Homo sapiens: one gene and its partners. The protein of the gene in region 2 purifies or fractionates together with the protein of the main gene of each other region. This does not show direct contact. Each region holds a gene or a part of one and is shown on either strand. Other genes may lie near its edges. The genes, in order: OGDH, KGD4 and OGDHL.

The links.
Region 1: the proteins of KGD4 (region 2) and OGDH purify together in Homo sapiens (co-immunoprecipitation; 2 studies listed by BioGRID and IntAct, with this or other methods). This does not show direct contact.
Region 3: the proteins of KGD4 (region 2) and OGDHL purify together in Homo sapiens (co-immunoprecipitation; 2 studies listed by BioGRID and IntAct, with this or other methods). This does not show direct contact.

The regions. Positions count from the first base shown.
Region 1 is NC_000007.14:44,693,576-44,700,679, reverse strand, and holds part of OGDH (2-oxoglutarate dehydrogenase complex component E1 isoform 1 precursor), read right to left. Parts: intron 6,856-7,104; coding exon 6,676-6,855; intron 6,257-6,675; coding exon 6,104-6,256; intron 4,656-6,103; coding exon 4,553-4,655; intron 4,252-4,552; coding exon 4,123-4,251; intron 3,767-4,122; coding exon 3,616-3,766; intron 3,311-3,615; coding exon 3,183-3,310; intron 3,077-3,182; coding exon 2,898-3,076; intron 2,489-2,897; coding exon 2,417-2,488; intron 540-2,416; coding exon 411-539; intron 1-410. UniProt on the Homo sapiens protein: 2-oxoglutarate dehydrogenase (E1o) component of the 2-oxoglutarate dehydrogenase complex (OGDHC). Participates in the first step, rate limiting for the overall conversion of 2-oxoglutarate to succinyl-CoA and CO(2) catalyzed by the whole OGDHC.
Region 2 is NC_000005.10:69,220,691-69,227,794, reverse strand, and holds part of KGD4 (alpha-ketoglutarate dehydrogenase component 4), read right to left. Parts: intron 1,458-7,104; coding exon 1,394-1,457; intron 1-1,393. UniProt on the Homo sapiens protein: Molecular adapter that is necessary to form a stable 2-oxoglutarate dehydrogenase enzyme complex (OGDHC). Enables the specific recruitment of E3 subunit to E2 subunit in the 2-oxoglutarate dehydrogenase complex (OGDHC).
Region 3 is NC_000010.11:49,759,220-49,767,154, forward strand, and holds the start of OGDHL (2-oxoglutarate dehydrogenase-like, mitochondrial), read right to left. Parts: upstream 3,105-7,935; 5' UTR 3,020-3,104; intron 2,781-3,019; exon of another isoform or gene 2,750-2,780; intron 1-2,749.

The DNA of each region.
Region 1 (7,104 bases), on a different chromosome or scaffold from region 2:
ACTCACCCTTCAACACCCAGCTCAGGAGCCGCTCCCTGGGGACCCTGCACTCCCTTGGCCTCTGCCAGGGCTCACCTCTCTTCCAGAGCTCAGCACACCCCCTATGACCACCTGTTCAAACATCCGTCCTCCCCACCGGGCTGGGGCCTGCAGCCTATGTGATTGCTCCGCATGTGGTGCTCAGCAGTATGCAGGGGCCCAGTCGGGGAAGAGGACACACAGAACACGCAGTTCCCTCATGGCAGCAGTGAGGAGGAAGGGCGAGGCTCCCTGACACCATGTCCTGTCCACACTACCCCTGCAGGTGCCCACCTAGCTAACCCCAAGCAAGAGGCTCTCTGAGGAGCCCTTCCCTGCACCAACAGGGCAGGGCCAGGCCTCGTTTGAGCAAGGGAGGCCCTGCCACTGACCGGCTTCCGGAATGGCAGCAGGATCTGGCGTCGTAGCACGTGGAAGAAGTTGCCAGGAGTGGAGCAGTTGACAACAACCCAATTGCAGTCATATAGCTGATTGATGTCGAAGTTGGCTTCTTTAAGGTCCTGCAGCAGGGAAGGAAATGGCCAGAGGCCAGGACACAGCACTGAGTCTTCTGGGGCATGTGGGGGCCCTCAGGTGATCTAGTTTGGATATTTGTCCCTGCCCAAATCTCATGTTGAATTGTAATCTCCCACTGCTGGAGGTGGGGCCTGGTGGGAGGTGTTAGGATTAGAGCTTGGGCCATCCCCTTGGTGATGAGTGAGCTCTCACTCTGAGTTCACACGAGATCTGGTTGTTGAAAGTGTGTGGCCCCTCTCCCCCACTCTCTTACTCCTGCTCTGGCCATGTGACATGCCTGCTCTCCCACTTCATCTTCTGTCATGATTGTAAGCTTCCTGAGGCCTCCCCAGAAGCTGAGCAGATGCCAGCATCATGCTTCCTGTACAGCCTACAGAACTGTGAGCCAATTAAACTTTTCTTTATAAATTACCCAGTCTCAGGTTTTTCTTTATAGCAACACAAGAATGGCCTAACACACTGACTCCCCAGGAGACATAAGCTGACACTAACAAGTGAGTCCAGCAAGCTCCTTCGGCCAGCCTCATACCCTGGAGGAGAGCCTCAGTCCCACTCAATCCATACTATTTCTCTGAAAGCTATTGCCCAGCATGAAACAAATACCACTTTAAGAGACACAAGTTCTACCTAAAACCAATTTTCCTTAGACACTGACACCTAATCATTTTCTTTGAGTTTTTTTTTTTTTTTTTTTTTTTTGAGACAGGAGTCTCCCTCTGTCGCCTAGGCTGGAGTGCAGTGGCGCAATCTTGGCTCACTGCAACCTCCACCTCCCGGGTTCAAGCGATTCTCTGCCTCAGCCTCCTGAGTAGTTGGGACTACAGGTGCCCGCCACCACGCCTGAATAATTTTTGTATTTTTAGTAGAGACGGGGTTTCACTATATTGGCCAGGGTGGTCTCAAACTCCTGGCCTCGTGATCCACCTGCCTGGGCCTCCAAAGTGTTGAGCTTACAGGCGTGAGCCACTGCGCCTGGCCAGTTCTTTTTTTGTGAGACGGAGCTGCCCAGGCTGGAGTGCAGCGGCACAATCTTGGCTCACTGCAACCTCTGCTTCCCGGGTTTAAGCAATTCTCCTGCCTCAGCCTCAGACTAGCTGGGATTACAGGTGGGCGCCACCATGCCCAGCTAGTTTTTGTATTTTTAGTAAAGACAGGGTTTCACCATATTGGCCAGGCTGGTCTCAAACTCCTGACCTCATGATCCGCCTGCCTGGGCCTCCCAAAGTGCTGGGATTTCAGGCTTGAGCCACCACACCCAGCACAGTTCTTTTTTTTTTTTTTTTTAAGACAGGGTATTGCTCTGTCACCCAGGTTGGAGTGCAGTGGCACGATCTTGGCTCACTGCAGCCTTGACCTCCCAAGCTCAAGCAATCCTCCCACCTCAGCCTCCCAAGTAGCTGGGACTGCAGGCGTGCACCATCACGCCCAGCTACTTTTTAAAATTTTTGTAGAGACGGGGTCTCACCATGTTGCCCAGGCTGGTTCTTTGAGTTCTTAAAGTTTCACTGGAATCGCCCCAAAGTTCTCTCCTCCTCAGGGCTTCCAGACCTGAATCAGGGTCTGGAAGCATCCCGCAGGAGCCCTTGCTGAGGAGCTCACATGGCGTTTCTGTGCTTGCAGCAACAGCAGGAAGCCAATGGAGGCAGTCCCTGCACCTTCCTCTGTGCTCTGAGGAAGTCTCTCATCCCAGGGCGCCCAGAAGCATGGGGCCACACCTGTCCACTCACGTGAGCTCCCCAGGATGGAGAAAGGGACAGAGGCACGGTCTGCCACTTCAGGATGACCAGATAGATTGCTCTTCCCCAGGTTTCCCACCAGACACCCCGAGAATGGCTGGGCTGACAGGGCCTGTATTACTCACTGGCAGGACATCTGGGTCATCGTTGCACATCTGCAAGAACCGCTCTGGGCGGGCGGAGGAATGTTCTGGACCCTGGAACCACACACGCAAGTTACAGTTTAAGAGCTCTTGCGTACTGACATTTGCCGCATCTGCTGTTCCTCCTCAACCAACTAGCTCATTTCTGGTTATCTTTTTTCTTGATGGCAGGGTTCAGTTCCTTCCCCCTCCCACCAGCAAAGCACTTGGCTCATCATTTCCACACTTGGACGCCTGTGCATCTAGGGAGTCTGCACCAGCAGGGACGGGGCATGCTAGCCACATCCAGATGGGCTACTCTGGCTTTCTGAAGTGACATCCCATCTGAGATGGATGGGAAGCACCAGCAGAGTCCTTAGGAGGCTGGTGTGAGCCACTGGCTCTCGTGCCAGTCTTTGGGGTCAGGGTCCTACACAGGCCCTTCCCAAGTCCTAGGTCTGGCAGGGAAGGGCCAGAGGCTCACCATGCCCTCCATGCCATGGGGCAGCAGCAACACGATGCCATTCTGCCGCACCCACTTGGCTTGTCCCGGGCAGATGAACTGGTCGATGATACACTGGGCCGTGTTGTGGAAGTCACCAAATTGGGCTTCCCAGAGGACCAGGGCATTAGGACTGGCCATGGCGAAGCCCAGCTCAAAGCCTACAAGGGACAAAGGAAGGAGAAAACCATGTCCAGGACACCAGCCAGTAGGCCCAGCGGGGGTGGGTGGGTGACAGGCCCTGGTGGTGTGGCTCCAGGCACTCACCCAGCACGCCGTACTCAGACAGTGAGCTGTTGCACACAGTATAGGGGGCCTGATTGGGCCAGAGATGGTTCATGGGGATGCAGGTTCTCTTGTCCACATTCTGGTCATGGAGCACATGGTGGCGGTGGCTGAGACAGGACAACAGAGGTAATAATTAGGAGCTCTGACTTGACAAGCAAATACGCTGGGGACCCGCACGAAGCACCAGCAGATGCCATGCTCTGTGACCTGGACTTCTGGCCAGGCAGCTGCAGGGTCGGCCCCACCCAGGTCTTAACAGAAGCACCCATAGCAAATGAGGGACAGAGGTTTTCAGCCTGAGAGCAATGTGACTCTTCCGGTTTCTAACCGTCTTCCGGAAAAGAAACACCAGAACCCCTCCCTTTCCATCTTCTACTCTTTGGAGGGCAAACAAAACTGCCCAGAACGTTACCTGAATGTGCCCCGCTCCACGTCCTGGCCGCTCAGCCGAATGTGGATGCCCTCCTTCAGGAGCGAGCCAAACGCCATGTACTCCGCTAGAGCCCAGTCCACAGTCCGGTTCTTCACCATTTCCCCACGAGTCTTCAAGATCCGGCTCAGCCCTGCAGAGACACAGCTCTCACCAGCTGCTGCAGGCCCTGCCTGCACATGCCTGCCTTGCTTCTCAGCGTGCCCATGGCAAGAGCGGAGCCTTCTTTACTCGTAGTTTCTGGGTTCCTGACTTGCTGGAAAAGCTGTGACCTCAGTCTCTCCTTTACCACTGAGGAAGTGTAGGATCGTGCTAAGGGCAGGGAGTGGGAGAGGTGGCTCCATCCAACCACCCCAGAGGCCTTGAGCAGGGCAGGAAGGGAGTCTCTGTAGGACACATGATGGGTGGGGGCCAAGGTCACAGTCCTAGACAGTCGTCGCCCCTGGCCTGGGCCCCAACATTTCCACAGGTCAGCACAGAGCGTGTTACCTCCATGAATAGTAAAGTTTTCCACAGGCACAGAACTAGCCACATTCCCGATGTGTGTCAGAATATCCTCCGTCAGACCCGTGGAGGGGCAGGACATGCTCCTGGGCTGCCCGTCCAGGGTGAAGAAGCCTAGGAGAAGAAGAACAACTGAGGCATGACATCTGCTCTACTTTTCCAGGGACCACAAAATGGCAGACACGTGATTTTGGGGAGAAGCAGGGTGAGAGACAATGTAGCTCACACTGTGTTCCCCAGAAAACATTAATGCAGGGGTCTGGGTCCAGGGTCTGCAGGGGGCTTTGCTGAAATGGTGCATACAACTGTGCATTGTGGGTACAAAGTGGAAAGCATGAATTTTTTCTGGGAAGAGGATGCCTCGTTACATCAGATCCTCAAAGGAGCTTATTTGTGGCACTGTTTCTTCACTCACCAGGCCAGGGAGAGTCCAGCCAGTGCTTAATGTGCAAGATCTTCTCATCTTTAGATCTGGCAAAAGCTTCCTCACAGATCTTATCATACTTGGAAATTTCCTCCTGGAGGGTTGGGCACAACACAGCGTGACTGGCACAGGGCATGACTACTGCACACGCCCACCTGTACCCCCACACTTTCTGACAGCCACCACGCAAGCCCAACCATACCCCTGGCACAACTCCCGTGCATGCCCACCCATAGTCCCACACTTCGTGGATGCAAAACATCTCAGCCTCTGGGCCTGCTCCTTCTCAATAGGCATAACACCTTTCTAAGATTTTATTCTTTTCACTCCCAAAAGTTTCTTCCTCACATTTGCTGGGTAGAGATTCTGCTCGGAGTTTGAACCCCTAACCCTTCACCACTTTTTTTTTTTTTTTTTGAGACGGAGTCATGCTCTGTCACCAGGCTGGAGTGCAATGGCGCGATCTTGCCTCACTGCAACTTCCGCCTCCCGGGTTCAAGCGATTCTCCTGCCTCAGCCACCTGAGTAGCTGGGACTACAAGTGCGTGCCACCACGCCCAGCAAATTTTTGTATTTTTAGTAGACGGGGTTTCACCATGTTGGCCAGGATGGTCTCGATCTCTTGACCTCATGATCCACCTGCCTCAGTCTCCCAAAGTGCTGCAATTACAGGCATGAGCCACCACGCCCAGCCCACCACATTTTTTCTTAAGAACTGGTCCAGGCCAGGCGCAGTGGCTCATGCCTATAATCCCAGCACTTTGGGAGGCCAAGACAGGCAGATCACTTGAGGTCAGGAGTTCAAGACCAGCCTGGCCAACACGGGGAAACCCTGTTTCTACTAAAAATACAAAAATTAGCTAGGCGTGGTGGCTCGCACCTGTAATCCCAGGTACTTGGGACGCTGAGACATGAAAACTGCTTGAAGTAAGGAGGTGGAGGTTGCAGTGAGCTAAGATCATGCCACGGCACTCCAGCCTGGGTGACAGAGCTAGACTCCGTCTCAAAAAACAAAACAAAACAAAAAAAAAACTGGTTCACAAAGCTCTGTCTCCAGCATAGGCTACAGGCTATCAGGTTGTTCTGATCTGGGATCTGTCCTGTTCCCATGCTCAGATATAGCTCCTCACACCCACCCTCTCCCTCTCTAGGGCAGCTGCTTGGCCTTCCCACTCACAACCAACCAGCACTTACTATCCAGATTACAACAGGCCCCTTACCAAGCTGGATCCACCACCCACCTCTCAACCATGCACAATTTGTGAAATCTGAGAAAACCTACTGGGCTGCTACTACCTCAACCTGAAAACATCCCCTTCCCTTCCCCAAAACACTGTTTAAGGCCCACTTCCTTTATAAAGCATCTCAGTGGCCCAGATTCTCCAAAAAGTTATGCATTGAAATGCTGTAGTTGTAAATATTTCACATCCTCTCACGTGTATCCTCATAACTGGCAAAAGTGAGAACTGGCCCTGTGGCCCACCTTTTCTAGTCATCGCCAGCCCTGGAAAGGCGCACTGGGATAGAGCCGCAGGGACGTACCTCATACTCAGGCTGGTTGACCACACCCTGCGACACCAGCAGCTCAGCGTACTTCTGTAACACAGGCTTCTGCTTGCGGATCTGCTTGTACATGAGCGGCTGCGTGAACATGGGCTCATCCATCTCGTTGTGGCCGTTGCGCCGGTAACACACCTGCTCAGAGCAGTGAGAGGATGTCAGAGACAAGGGCTGGCCCCTTGGGAAGAAGTGCTGTTCAGGCACCTGCCCCATCTCTCCTAGGTGATGGCCACGTTCTTCATTCCTCATGCCTGCCCTGGAGTTTACCTTCTCTAGAATTAGGATTCTGTGTATCTCTCCTTCACACAGTAGAGCTGCTCTGTCAATGAGGAGTGGCCCTCCTCACCACCACAGCTCCTGCCTGGGAAGCATTCCTTGGTGCTTACAGGCCTGAACTATTTGGAGCTCAAAGGAACCAGCATGAGGCCTGGCAGTAGAGAGCCCTGAGGTGACTCATCTAGACAAGCTCCTCTCCTTGGGACACAGGGGTGCCGAGGGCAAGAGGGGTGGGTCAGATGCTCTGCCCAGGACGTGCTGTCCCCAGAGTCACTCACCAAATCGACAACCACGTCCTTGTGGAAGGTGCTCCTCCACTCGGCCGCCACTTTGCACACGTACATGACAGCCTCGGGGTCATCTGAGTTCACGTGGAAAATGGGGGCATTCACCACTCGGGCCACGTCAGTGGGGTAGGGGGAGGAGCGGGCCATCCGAGGGTCGGTGGTGAAGCCGATCTGCAAGGAACATGTAGCCTAGCAAGAGGGCACCTGGCACAGCCGGCACAGGGACCAGAGGGCGGGGCTGAGGCCGGGCATGGCATGCACTTGCCATCTGGCTACTCTGAGTACGTACCCCAAAATGGCTGTTTACACTTTTTCTTTTCCTTTGTTTTTTCCTATTCTGATAACAAAATCCATATATATTTAACATAGAGAATTTAAAAGACATAGTATGAAAAGTTAAATTAAGTTACCTATAATTCC
Region 2 (7,104 bases):
ATGTAAAATAATGAAATTTCTAGTTAGTGGAATTCAACCCTTTAGGGGAACCTACACTACTTAAGCTTATGTCACATAACCCCTCATAGGCCAACACATGGTGGAGTTTACAGGTAATATCTTACAATAAGGAATAAGAAAGTCAGTAAATGTAAATGAGGGTAGTTTTCTCAATATCTTTACACTTGTTTAAACATCTTAATTCTTCAATAGTTACAATAAGTTAAAAATATACCTATAAAATGTGTTAAAATTGCCTGAATTAAAGATCAAGAGAGGCACAGAGGATCTGGTTTTTTTAAAAAAGGGCGGGAATCAGAGAAAAACAGAACCCTTTCAGAATCTTCTCCCATTAATTTTGAATAAATGCTAAGGATTAAGGCAATCCAAAAAATATTTACTGACTAGATGAATAGATAAATGAATGAATGAAAGAAAAGATGGTTGGTGAGGAGAGAAACAGGAATGGTTATTATTTTCCCAGTCTCTGCAAATGTAAGCATGGGAGAATCTTCTAAAGGATAGGAGAGAATAAAGGTAGGACAAAATTTTGCCCATATAAACTCACTAGAAATTCAGAGACATCTTCTGTTGAGTCACTACCTTTTAAAATAGGGGTAATAAAGGCCAGGTGAGTGGCTCATGCCTGTAATCCCAGCACTTTGGGAGGCGGAGGCAGGCAGATCACCTGAGATCAGGAGTCGAGACCAGCCTAGGCAACATGGTGAAACCCTGTCTCTACTAAAAATACAAAAATTAGCCAGGCGTGCTAGTGTATGCCTGTAATCCCAGCTACTAAGGATGCTGAAGCACGAGAATTGCTTTAACCCGGGAGGGGGAGACTGCAGTGTGCCAAGATAGCACCACTGCACTCCAGCCTGGGCGACAGAGCAAGACCCTGTCTCAAAAAATAAAATAAAATAGAGGTAATAATTTTTTTTTTTTTTGAGACAAAGTCTTGCCCTGTCACCCAGGCTGGAGTGCAGTGGCATGATCTTAGCTCACTGCAACCTCCGCCTCGTGGGTTCAAGCAATTCTATGCCTCAGCCTCCCGAGTAGCTGGGACTATAGGAGCCCGCCACCACGCCTGGCTAATTTTTTGTATTTTTTAGTAGAGACAGGGTTTCACCATGTTGGCCAGGCTGGTCTTGAACTCCTGACCTCAGGTGATCCGCGTGCCTCGGCCTCCCAAAGTGCTGGGATGACAGGCGTGAGCCACCGCTCCCAGCCATAAGTTAATTTCTACTTGCATGCTACATAAGGCACTATTTTGATCTAAGCTACAATAGTCTTAACTGATTTTAAAATGAGAAATATTGCCTATAATAAAATACTCATTTATAAATATTCATGTACACAATTTTAAAAGAAATTTAAATAAAATACAACTCACCATTGGGTTTAGGATTGTCTCTTCTGTCAGGAAACCTTATTAATGGAGTGTGTGGTTTGACTACCTAAATGAAAAGTAATATGCATGAAAAACAATCTCATTAACTAAAAGAAATGATCTACTAAACCTCATAAGTAGATACGTTTGTTAAAATTACTATTTTACAGCAACTTTAAATTATACTCTTCCCCAACCAGGAAAGCTGGTCTATGAATTATTAACTTGTCTACCCGGTAAACACAACTTTGTACTTTATATATCACAAGACTTCATTGTACTATCGAAGGTGTACTTCACTTCAAAGCAACCCAATGGAGGAGATGATGTAGAGTTTATGTTGCATGACTTATAGATTGGTAAGAATGAAAGCTGGCTGGGTGCAGTGGCTTATGCCTGTAATCCCAACATTTTGGGAGGCCCAGACAGGCAGATTGCGTGAGTGCAGGAGTTTGAGACCAGCCTGGGCAACATGGTGAAACCCCGTCTCTACCAAAAATTAAAACAAAAACAAAAAGAAAAACAAGGCCCAGTGTGATGGCTCACGCCTATAATCCCAACACTTTGGGAGGCCGAGGCGGACGGATCACGAGGTCAGGAGTTCAAGACCAGCCTGGCCAACATGGTGAAACCCCATCTCTACTAAAAATACAAAAATTAGTTGGGCATGGTGATGCGTGCCTGTAATCCTAGCTACTTGGGAGGCTGAGGCAGGAGAACTGCTTGAACCAACCGGGACTCCGGAGGCAGAGGTTGCAGTGAGCTGAGATCGTGCCACTGCACTCTAGCCTGGGCTACAGAGTGAGACTCCATCTTAAAAAAAAAAAAAAAAAAAAAGGTGGCTGAGCATGGTGGCTCACACCTGTAATCCCAGCACTTTGGAAGGCTGAGGCAGGTGGATCACGAGGTCAGGAGTTCGAGAGCAGCCTGACCAACAGGGTGAAACCTCGTATCTACTAAAAATACAAAAATTAGCAGGGCATGGTGGTAGTGCACACCTGTAATCCCAGCTACTCAGGAGGCTGAGGCAGGAGAATCGCTTGAACGCAGGAGGCAGAGGTTGCAGTGAGCAGAGATAGTGCCACCATACTTCAGTCTGACCACAGAGCGAGACTCCGTCTCAAAAAAAAAAAAAAAAAAAATGTGGTGCTATGTGCCTGTAGTTCCAGCTACTTGGGAGGCTGAGGTGGGAGGATCACTTGAACCAAGGAGGCAGAGGTTGCAGTGAGCTCAGATCTTGCCACTGCACTCCAGCCTGGGCAACAGAGTGAGACCCCATCTCAAAGAAAAAACACTGGAAATTTACTGCCTTTTTTTTTTTTTTCTTTTTTCAGACGGAGTCTCACTCTGTCGCCCAGGCTGGAGTGCAGCGGCACGATCTCAGCTCACTGGAACCTCCACCTCCTGTGTTCAAGCGATTCTCCTGCCCCAGCCTCCCGAGTAGCTGGGACTATAGGCACGTGCCACCACGCCCGGCTAGTTTTTTTCACTTTTAGTAGAGACGGGGTTTCACCGTGTTAGCCAAGGTGGTCTCAATCTCCTGACCTCATGATCCGCCCACCTTGGCCTCCTAAAGTGCTGGGATTACAGGTGTGAGCCACCGCACCCGGCAGAAATTTACTGACTTTTTAAATTTTTTGTTGAGACAGCGTCTGGCTTGTTGCCCAGGATGGAGTGCACTGGCATGATGTGGCCTTACCGCAACCTCCGCCTCCTGCTCCTAGGTACAAGCAATCTTCTTGCCTTAGCCTCCCAAAGTTCTAGGATTTCAGGCATGAACCACTGCACCTGGCCTCCTGACTTGTTTTGAGTGTTATTTCCCTACTATATTAATACCTAACAGGGAAGAAAAAACAATCATTTTGAAAATTAGAAAATTAAAGAATACTTTTTTTGACTACAAAAGTAACACAAATTCTGTGTAAAACATTTGGAAGAACACAGAAGAGCACAAAGAAGAAAACACTATAATCCCAAGACCCACGTAAAACAAATAAAAGACTTTTTTTTTTTTTGAGATGGAGTCTCCTCTGTCACCCAGGCTGGAATGTAGTGGCGTAATCTCTGTTCACTGCAACCTCCGCCTCCCAGGTTCAAGCAATTCTCCTGCCTCAGCCTCCTGAGTAGCCAGGATTACAGGCCTGCGCCACCACACCCCGCTAATTTTTGTATTTTTAGTAGATATGGAGTTTCCCCATTTTACCCAGGCTGGTCTTGAACTCCTGACCTCAAATGATCCACCTGCTTCGGCTTCCCAAAGTGCTGGGATTACAGGCATGGGCCACCATGCCCGGCCCAAATTAAAACATTTGATAGCACTTTATTTTAGTCTTTTTCCTATACCCATAGGAATACTTTTTTTTTTTTTTTTTTAGACAGAGTCTTGCTGTGTCACTCAGACTGGAGTACAGTGCCGCAATCATGGCTCACTGCAACCTCCGCCTCAAGGGTTCAAGTGATTCTCCTGCCTCCGCCTCCCAAGTAGCTGGGATTACAGGTGCCCGCCACCACACCCGGCTAATTTTTATATTTTTAGTAGAGACAGGGTTTCACCATGTTGGCCAGGCTGGTTTCGAACGGCCTCCCAAAGTGCTGGGATTACAGGCGTGAGCCACCATGCCTGGCCTGGAATACATATTTTTGGAATACTGTTTTTGGAACAGATGTTTGAAAAGTATTAACATTTTTGTCCGTAAAATTCCAGATAGTGGTACAGAGGACCTTAAATGGACCTGTCAATATGAAATCTTCTGAATATACAATGCTAAGAATCTAATGAACAAAGTACTATTTTCAACTAATCTATAAATTGCTATGTAACGAATAAGACTGAGGTGGGTTTATCTGCAATATATTTATATATTTGTAGTACATATTATGCATTTTATGTGGGCACAGAAGCAAATAGGTATGGGATTGGCCTAAAAATTCACCACTGTAATTCTGTGGCTGTGAGAAAATGCTGGAATGTGTTCTCTCCCTCACCATAAAATCATGCTCAAGTCTTCCATGCTAAAAAACTTCTCGGCCGGGCATGGTGGCTCACACCTGTAATGCCAGCACTTTGAGAGGCCGAGGTGGGTGGATCATGAGGTCAGGAGATCGAGACCATTCTGGCTAACACGGAGAAACCCCGTCTCTACTAAAAATACAAAAAAAGTAGCCAGGCGTGGTGGCACACACCTGTAGTCCCAGGTACTCGGGAGGCTGAGGCAGGAGAATCGCTTGAACCTGGGAGGCAGAGGTTGCAGTGAGCCGAGATTGTGCCACTGCACTCCAGCCTAGGTGAAAGAGCAAGACTTTGTCTCAAAAAAAAAAAAAAAAAAAAAAGCTGCGCACCGTGACTCACGCCTGTCATCCCAGCACTTTGAGAGGCCAAGGCGGGTGGATCATGAGGTCACGAATTCAAGACCAGCCTGGCCAAGACGGTGAAACCCTGTCTCTACTAAAAAAATAAAAAAATTAGCCGGGCGTGGTGGTGGGCGCCTGTAATCCCAGCTACTCGGGAGGCTAAGGCAGAAAATTGCTTGAACCCTGGAGTGGAAGTCCGAGATCGAGCCACTGCACTCCAGCCTGAGTGACAGAGAGAGGCTCTGTCTCAAAAAAAAAAACTTCTCTATTAACTGTTTCTTCACTTTCATAGCCAAGCTTCTTAAGAGAATGTTCTATCTATCCTATCATCACTCCCCTATTTAGAAGTTTGAAAACTGGCTGAGGTCAGTGGCTCATGCCTGTAATCCCAGCACTTTGGGAAGACGGCTTGAGCCCAGGAGTTTGAGACCAGCCTGAGCAAGAAGATGAGACTCCCTCTCTACAACTTAAAAGAAGAAAAAAAAGAAGTTTGAAAAATGTTCCACAGCTTTCAGGATAAAGTTCAAACTCTTCTTTGGCACTCACAACACCCATTGTGATCTGGCCTCTCCCTACTTTGCCAGCCTTTCTCCCCTACTGTCTTATGTACCCATTGCTCCAAGTATTCTGAAGTATTTTTCCTTTCCCCAATTCATCCTATTTATCCTCATTCCATCTACAGCTTACGTCCTCTGCCATGAAATCTCCCTCCTATCCCATTCCACTTCCATGCCTATCCTTCTGACTGCTTATCCTTTACAACAGCTCAAATGTCACTCTTCTCTAAGAACCTTTCCCAAATTCCAAAGTCTGAGTTAAAAACTCTCCTTATGTTTTCAGAGGACAGATAAGTTAGCCAATGATTATAGAAGAGCACTAAGCTCCTGGACAGTCAGAGACAGAAAACTAAGCACTTCTGCAGTAGCATTCCTGTTACATGGTAAATGCCCAAGTAACAGTTGCCAAATACGTGAATAAACCATTTGTAAGTTAGGTCTAACTGTATAGGCATGTAAATATGTATTATATACTTATACAAATGTACTTTTAATAGATATGGGGTTTTGCCATGTTGGCCAGGCTGGTCTCGAACTCCTGACCTCAGGTGATCTGCCCGCCTTGGTCTCCCAAAGTGCTGGGATTACAGGCATGAGTCACCGTGCCCAGCCTTATGTTTTCTATAATAGTCTTTTATCAGATATGTCTTTTGAAAGTATTTTCTCCCAATATGTGGCTTGCCTTTTTTTGACAGTGTCTCACAGAGCAGAATTTTTTATTTTAATGAAGTCCAGCTTATCAATTAATTTTTCATGGATCATGCCTTTGGTGTTATATCTAAAAAGTCATTCCTAAACCTAAGGTTATTTTTATTTTCTCCTATGTTATATTCTAAGGGTTTTATAGTTTTGCATTTTGCATTTAGGTCTAGGATCCATTTTGAGTTAATGTTTGTGAAGAACGTGAGGTCTGTGTCTAGATGGATATCCAATTTTTTCAGCACCATGTTGAAAAGACTATCTTTTCTCCATTGTATTCCCTTTGCTCGTTTTGTCAAAGATCAGTTGACTATCTCTTTATTTTTACCTTTCCAAATCTTAGTTTTAGCTATGCCTCTTATAAATAGCATAGCACTGGATTTTCATTTGTTAGCCAGTCTGAAAATGTTTTACTTTATTATTTATTTTTTGAGACCAGGTCTTGCTCTGTTACACAGGCTGGGGTGCAGTGGAGTGATCGTGGTTCACTGCAGCGTCAAACTCCTGGGCTCAAGTGATCTTTCCACCTCAGCCTCCTAAGTAGCTAGGACTACAGGTACACACCCACACACTACCCCTCCTGCCTGGCTAATTTTTTTTTTTTTTTTTAGTATTTATTGATCATTCTTGGGTGTTTCTCGGAGAGGGGGATGTGGCAGGGTCATAGGATAATAGTGGAGAGAAGGTCAGCAGATAAACACGTGAACAAAAAGGTCTCTGGTTTTCCTAGGCAGAGGTCCCTGCGGCCTTCCGCAGTGTTTACGTCCCTGGGTACTTGAGATTAGGGAGTGGTGATGACTCTTAACGAGCATGCTGCCTTCAAGCATCTGTTTAACAAAGCACATCTTGCACCGCCCTTAATCCATTTAACCCTGAGTGGACACAGCACGTTTCAGAGAGCACGGGGTTGGGGGTAAGGTTATAGATTAACAGCATCCCAAGGCAGAAGAATTTTTCTTAGTACAGAACAAAATGGAGTCTCCTGTGTCTACTTCTTTCTACACAGACACAGTAACAATCTGATCTCTCTTTCTTTTCCCCACATTTCCCCCTTTTCTTTTCGACAAAACCGCCATCGTCATCATGGCCCGTTCTCGATGGTTGCTG
Region 3 (7,935 bases), on a different chromosome or scaffold from region 2:
CAGGCCCAGCCAGAAGGCTGGTGACACTAGGCCCAACAATAGCCCCACTTCATTGCAGGAAGGGCTAAGGTCTGGAGGGGCAGGAAGAGTAGAATGGAAGGCAGCCCCAGGCCCAGCCCAGCGCCACTCAAGACAGCTAACAGTCCAGGCAGGTACAGACTGGAAGCCCACCCAGACCACGGGGAACCAGGCCCTGCAGCTCATCTCACCTCACTCTGTCACCTGTGCCTTCCCAGGGAAAATATCTAAATCTTGGGCTTTCAGTGATGGGGGCTTTCTCTATTCCGCAGACGGTAAGAGTTCTAAGAGCCCTCTGCCAATCCTGGAGAACCCCCCAGATATCCCTATCCAGGCAGGTTAGGGGTTGATAGGGCCTACTGAGGTCCCAGATCACCCCATACCCCTGCCACCTCATCCTACACATGATGTGTAAAGTGGGACCTCTGTTCCCCACCCTACAACTGTGAGCAGAACCCCTTCCTCTGCTCCAGCACAGCCACTGCCATAGAGCAGCTCCCCATGAATACCAGCTAATGCCCTCCTGCCCAGACCGCCCAGCTTGTAAGCTGGGTGCAAGGACCACCCCACAAGGGGTCGCCCAGGCGGGAGGAGTCCCCTACCCCTGGACAGCTCAGGCCCCAGAAAATGTGCATTCTGGGGTATAACTGGCTTCCAAGTACTGCCCAGGCCAGGCCCTGAGCCAACGCTCCTGGTCAGGTGTGCTCAGCCAACACCTGTTGCACCCTTCTGCCTCACCCCTGCCATCAGCTCAACCATGTCACCAGAAACTCACTGGCTGGACTTTCCACAAAAGGTCAGGCCCCACCAGAGGGCAGGGCACAGCCCTCCTTCTAACTCACATGAGCCAGAGGAAAGGGGTGATGTCACCTCAATGGAGGGAGGACAGGCTCCTGGGGCAACCAGCAGCAAGCCTGAACAGAGAAAATTTTCAAAACAAAAAAGATTCCACTGCAGGGAGGAGGGAGGTGAGCTTGGGAGCCTCTGAGTGCCCCCAAGTTTCCCTCCCCAATGCTCAGCCCCTGAGGCTTCGGGTCATGTGGCCCAGCCCACGAGCCAGTGATGCCAAGCCCTAGAGCGCGGGGCACTTGGGGCCGGCTCCTCTGGGAGCAGCACCTCTCCAAGTGCCAGGCATGAGCTCTGGGGTCAGGCAGCCAGGGTCCCAACTCCTGTTCCACCTCTGACTATCCTAGAGGCCTGGGCAAAGAGAAGGTCGTGCCAGCCCAGCTGGCCACTAGGCCCAGGAGCTCCTGAAGCATCAGGGAGAATCTTCTAGAGCATCAAAAAGAATCCACAACCCAGGACGCTTTATCATCCCCAGTCTATGGCAAAGGAAACTAGATATCAAGACCATCGTCATGGGAATAAACATAATAGGCACCGTCAGGAGCACTGATTCTAGGACAGATACTGTGCTCATTTAATCCTCCCAACATCCCATGGGGTGGGCACTCATATCAGTTCCACTTTATAAACAGAGAAACTGAGGTGCAAGAGGCTAAGCTGGCTAATCTGGTGAGTGACAGGGCTGTGTGGGGTTCCAGCGACTGTGCCCTGATCACTGCAGTCAATATGTAAGCCAGATTTCTCTTAGCGATGCAGTTCCCATCAGCTGAGCCAGAGCTGCTCCCTCTGCCAGCGCCACTCCCACCCCCACAGGGGAATGGGGCAGTTTGGGCCAGATAGGGACAAAGTCTGGCTGTGTCCAGAATGGCCCGGTGCAGGAACACTGTTTTATAAACACTAAACAGTCTGGGTTGGCCACTGGGCACTGTTGTGACCTTGACCCAGCCTGGCAGGAGGGCAGCCTGCCACCCACCCCCACCTGCATCCCAGCAGGGCATGAGGGCTCAGTATCTAGAGCCAGAGCCCAAGCCAGCCCTACTAGTTCCTGCCCATACAGTCAAGGACAGCAACAAGGAGTGAGAGTCAGGTGCCCTGTGCAACCCCCTGCCCAGTCCAGACTCCAGCAGAGTTGCCCTGGGTATCTCTTGGGGGTCTCTTCTCTGAGGACAAGGTCACATAGCATCCCCAACCCAACCTCAGAACCTCAACCCAACCCCAGAAAACTGCCGACACCATGGCCACTAAGACTCCCACACACACAACCCTGTCTGGGGTGCCCTAGTGAGGACTACTCCCTAATGCACCCATTGCAGAGATCAGTAAACAGAGGCCGGGAAGGGTTCTCCCCAGAGGGCCCTCCAAGCTGGGCAGCAGCAGAGCCTGGATTCTCTCAGCAGCAGGTCTACTCTGACCCCACTTTCTGAGAAGCAGATGAGCTTTTGCTCAGCAACAAACCGCAATTCTATTTAGTTGGGGCCTGTTCCAAGACACTGGGGAGGGGCTGCTAGGGCCTGCTTGAGCCAGGTGGCCGAGGGGCGTCAAAGGGTCTCTCCGGTTCGGCGAATGCGTACTGCAGCCTGCTGTGGCCTCGGGATTACCCCGTCCCCCTCCCACATCTCCCGGGGGGCGGAAGAAGCGCATCCCATGCAAGCAGCGACCTCAGGCCATGCCGCCCTCTCTCAGGCCTCAGTTTTCTCATCTGTAATCGGAGACCGCGGTTAAAACCGTCTATTAGGCTCCTTGGTAGTCCGAAGCTGCCTATGGGTCCCGCCAGGTGCACAGCGCTGACCCTCCCCATCCCCCGCACAGCCCTCGCAGCTCCGGGCCCTCCCCTGGCCACGGAAGGCGCGGGGCAGTCTGAAGTCCTCGGGCTGGAGAAACCCACCGCGAGCACCCGCTCCTCTGCGCAGGACCCTGGACTAGCCGGGTGGTACGCGCGCGATGGGCTGGGGGTCCCGGGGGAGGCCACGGCCAGCCAAGGTCAGAGCCAAGGTCACAGTCTGTTCCTCCTCCCCCTCCCCCCGGCGGGGCCAGACTCAGGGCTGCGGGCAGCGGCGCCCCAGGACCCAGGAGAGAGGAGCTGTGGGGCCGGTCCCCAGGACGGCAGGAGAAGCAGCGGCGCAGGGACCGGGAGGGGGCGGGCCGCCGCGCTCACCGGGCGGGCGGGCCGGGTCCGCGCTGCAGCGAGGTCCGGAGGCTGCAGGTCAGGGGGCTGCGCGGAAGGGGTGCGCGCGCGCCGTGCCAATTACCTGGGTCACGTGACGCAGCCGCCCACGGGCGCGCGCCCCTGAGACTCCGCGCGTCGTGACGTCTCCATGGATGCCCCGCCCCGCTCCTGGCGCTGTCCACGGTGCTGGCGGCCCAGGCCCGAGGTCGCCCACGGCCGAAGGGGGGACTCCTCTCTGAGACCGCAGAACGGGGCTGAGGCCCTGAACCCCGTGTGCTCGTCCTAAAACTAGGACGAATGTACCAGACGACAAGCAGCCTTTGTGTGTAGGAGAGGATAGGTTTTGTTTTGTCGTCTGTAAAATGGGAATGCTATGAAAAGTTCCACTATCTTAGGGATGTTTTGAAAAAAAGATGAGATAATGCGTGAAAAGTGCTTACCCCAAATCTGATACACATTTTACCCATTCATCCTCCCACTGATGGTGACCCAGGCTGTCCTCACCACCCCGTGGCCACAAACAAGGCTGCAATGAACTTCTTCATACACATTCCCTTAGGATCCTGCGTGGAACTTTCTCTGGGATAGAGATCAACTTTCTAATTATTATCAGAATAGCAGATGCAATGTCCTGTTATTGTTTTAATCTGCATTTCTCTGGTTATCAACCATTTGCATCTCCCGTTGTTTGTTAGTTTGGGGTTTTCTGTTGTATTTTTTTCAGCTTTCTGTTGGGTTTTGTTCTCATTTAAATGCAGGGATTTCTTGTATAGGAACATAACATACCTGTGGTTCAAGTTGCCATCAAATCTCTCCTGGATTATCGCAGCAGCCTCCTAACTGGCTTCTCTGCTTCTACACTTACACTCTTGAATTTTAATCTCAAAACTACAGTATGCACTTCACAAGAATATATTCAAGTACATATCAAACCAATTAATATGGTTGCTTGTCGAGGGAGGAGGATGGGGAATGTGGATATGAGGTAATTAATCAATTACCCAGATCACTGCTGACAGAGTGCCACGAAGAAAGGAATACAACTAACTTCTGCACCTGAAGTCTCCCAAAAGTTCTTTATTTGGAGACAGTTAGGGATACATGTGGTCAAGAATCTTCAGCACTTAACACAGCACTATCATGGTATTTTTCAGTAAATATTTGTTGAATGAATGACTGAGTGAGTAAATGGACACTTGACTTGGATCCTGAAGGATGAGTAAGATTTTATCTGGTGCAGAAGGGCAGGGTTCATTGGGAATTCTTTGGACACAAGCACCAAAAATGACCTGGCTAGCTTCAGCCGAAAACGAGTTGATATGAAGGTTGTATATAAGGCAACTCACAGAATCAGAGGAAAGCTGAAAATTTACTTCAGGAAGCAGGGCTGAGCCATAGAGGAACTGTCTCTTCAAGGCTCTTCTGTTTTTCAAAATTCAAATTCCGGGTGAGAGGCAGTAATGTACTTGCAGTAGAGACGGAGTAAGGTGGCCAGATTTGAGAGACTTACGGGGATCAGCTCCACGGGGTTTAGTGGTTGACCAGATATGAGGGTGGAGACATAGATAACTCACAGGTGTCTGGCTTTAGTGACTTGGGCACAGTGGAACTTCTCAGTGAGCTAGGGAAAAGGAGAAGCTGCAGTTTGGGGTAATAGTGGAAAAGTTTACAAGTCAGAGTCACCGATTAAGAAAGATGGAAAGCCTGACACAGAGCAGCAGGCAGGAACAAGGCTCTTGCAAATCAAAAGGCTTCAGAGCCTTTCAGCCTTCCAGCCTAATTGGTGTTCTGCTAATTGCATTGATTAAAGCAAACATTTGGGGCAATCAACGCTCCCATGAGGGTGGCTGCCATTCTCAGAAGCCTGAGAGGATTAGTGGCAGTGGCTGTAGGCTTTGCAGAGATCTTCAGAAACAGACACCTTTCTTTTTTTCCCATGCCTGTGGCGTGTGTGTGTGTGTGTGTGTGTGTGTGTGTGTGTGTGTGTCAGAACATGGAAGTTTTTATTTATTCTAGTTGTACAGAACTTAAATGATACAGAAGGATACAGAACAAAATGTGAAAAGCCCCCTTCCACCTGCCCCAACCTCACCTCTTTTTTTTCCTTCCAGAGATAACTACTGGCCAGTTTGGCAAACATTTTTACAAAATTGTTTATGTATTTATATCCATATGCTTCTACAAACATATACATAAAAATATGAAATGGATCACACTAGAATATAGTTCCACGACTTGTTTCTTTTTTTCCCTTGTCTTGAAGATTTTTATTTAAACTCAGTATGTGTAGGACCACCTCATTCTTTTTCATGGGTATGTTGTATTCATTATAGGGATGTATGGTGACTGTATGTCACTTCTCTCCCATTGAATGAACATTTCCATTTCTTTTGACATTTACAGAAAAAAAAGGAGAAAAGAGTCCTCCTATATATTCCCTTTAGTACATGCAAAACTACTATGGTAACATTGATTTCTCTTTCTTTCTTTCTTTCTTTCTTTTTTTCTTTTTTTTTTTTTTTTTCAAGATGGAGTCTTGCTCTGTCACCAAGGCTAGAGTGCAGTGGCTGGATCTCAGCTCACTGCAACCTCCACCTCCCAGGTTCAAGCAATTCTTCTGCCTCAGCCTCCTGAGTAGCTGGGATTACAGGCTCCCACCACCATGCCTCGCTAATTTTTTTATTTTTAGTAGAGATGGAGTTTCATCATGTTGGCCAGGCTGGTCTTGAACTCCTGACCTCATCATCCCCCACCTTGGCCTCCCAAGTGCTGGGATTATGGGAGTGAGCCACCATGCCCAGCCTGATTTCTAAATTAAGTTTAACAATGGGTCAAAAGATATATATTCTTTGCAGTTTAATATGTATAATAAATATCTAGTAAGACCGTTCCACTGAATACTTCCTCATTAGTGTTTTTGAGTTCCCACTCCCTTACATCCTTGCCAAGATTTATTATCAGTTTTCTTTCATTTATGCCAGTCTGATAGGTGAAAAATCACATTTTGTTTTAGTTAGCATAAAACTGATAAGCGAGTTTGAAAATCTCTCTTTTTTTGAGGTGGAGTCTCGCTCTGTCACCTAGGCTGGAATGCGATGGCGTGATCTTGGCTCACTGCAAACTCTGCCTCCTGGATTCAAGCTATTCTCCTGCCTCAGCTTTCCAAGTAGCTGGGACTATAGGCACACACCACCATGCCCAGCTAATTTTTGTATTTTTAGTAAAGACAGGGTTTCATCATGTTGACTAGGCTGGTCTTGAACTCCTGACCTCAAGTGATCTGCCCGCCTTGGCCTCCCAAAGTGCTGGGATTATAGGCATGAACCACCGCACCCGGCCTGAAAATCTTTTTATATGTTTTTATATGTTTCTTTTTATATGTTTCTTATTTTGTATTCTTTTTCTACAAATTGCCTATTGATAGACTTTGCTCATTTTTCTATCAGGTTGTTTATATTTTGCTTGAATTCACATAAACTCTGTACATATTCTGAATAAGAATATTTTGTAGGTTGTAAATGTTGCAACATTTCTCCCAGTCTGTCACTTGTCTTAACTTTGTTTATAGATGCTTTGGCCACATTTTCATAGCTTTGATTACAGTCTATTATTATAATTTTTCTTTTATAGTCTTACTTATTGTTGTTAATCTCTTACTAGGCCTAATTTATAAATTAAACTTTATCATAGGTATGGGCCAGGCATGGTGGCTCACACCTGTAATCCCAGCACTTTGGGAGGCCAAAGCAAGTGGATCACCTGAGGTCAGGAGTTTGAGACAAGCCTGGCCAACATAGTGAAACCCCATCTCTACTAAATATACAAAAAATTAGCCGGGTGTGGTGATGGTTGCCTACAATCCCAGTTACTCGGGAGGCTGAGGCAGGAGAATCACTTGAACCCAGGAGGTGGAGGTTGCAGTGAGCTGAAAGAGTGCCACTGCATTTCAGCCTGGGCAACAGAGTGAGACTCCATCTCAAAAAAAAAAAAAAGAAAAAGAAAAAGAAAAAAAAATTATCATAGGTATGTATAGGAAAAAACAGGGTATATATAGGGTTTGATACTATGTGAGGATTTGGGCATCCATGGGGGCCTTGGAACGTATCTCCCCAGGATAAGCACAAACTACTATATAAAACATTTCTATCACCACAAGGATCCCTCAAAATGCCCTTCTATAGCCACACCTATTTCCCTCCCACATCACCTCCTCCTTAACCCCTCCAAACCATTAATCAGTTCTCCATCTCTATAATTTTGCATTCAATAATGTTATATGTAAGTGGCATTATAGGGTAGGTAGGCTTTTAGGATTAGCTTTTTTTCATTCAGTATAGTTCTTCGGAGATTCATGCAGGTTGTTGTGTGAATCAGTCATTTGTCTCTTTTTATTGCTGAGTAGTATTCCATGGTATGGATGTACCACAGTTTGTTTAACCATTCACTCATAAAGGGCATCTGGATTGTGCTCAGATTTTGGCTATTACAAATAAACCTGCTATGGACATTTATGTTCAGATTTTTGTGTGAACATAAGTCTTCATTTCTCTGGGGTAAATGCCTTGGAGTGCAATTGCTGGGTCGTATGGTAGTTGCATGTTTCATTTTTTATAAACCTTCTGCTCTTTTCTAGAGTAGATGTGCCACTTCACAGTCCCATCAACAATGTGTAGGTGATACAGTTTCTCTGCATCCTCACCGGCATTTGGTGCTGTGTGTTACCCATCCTGATAGGTATGTCATGATATCTTATTGCGGTTTTAATTTGCATTTCCCTGATGGCTAATGAGCATCTTTTCACGTGTGTGTTTGTAATCTGTATATCCTCTTTGGAGAAATGTCTCTTTATGTCCTTTAGACCTTTTCTAATTGGATCACTCTTTTTTTTTCTTACTGTTGAGTTT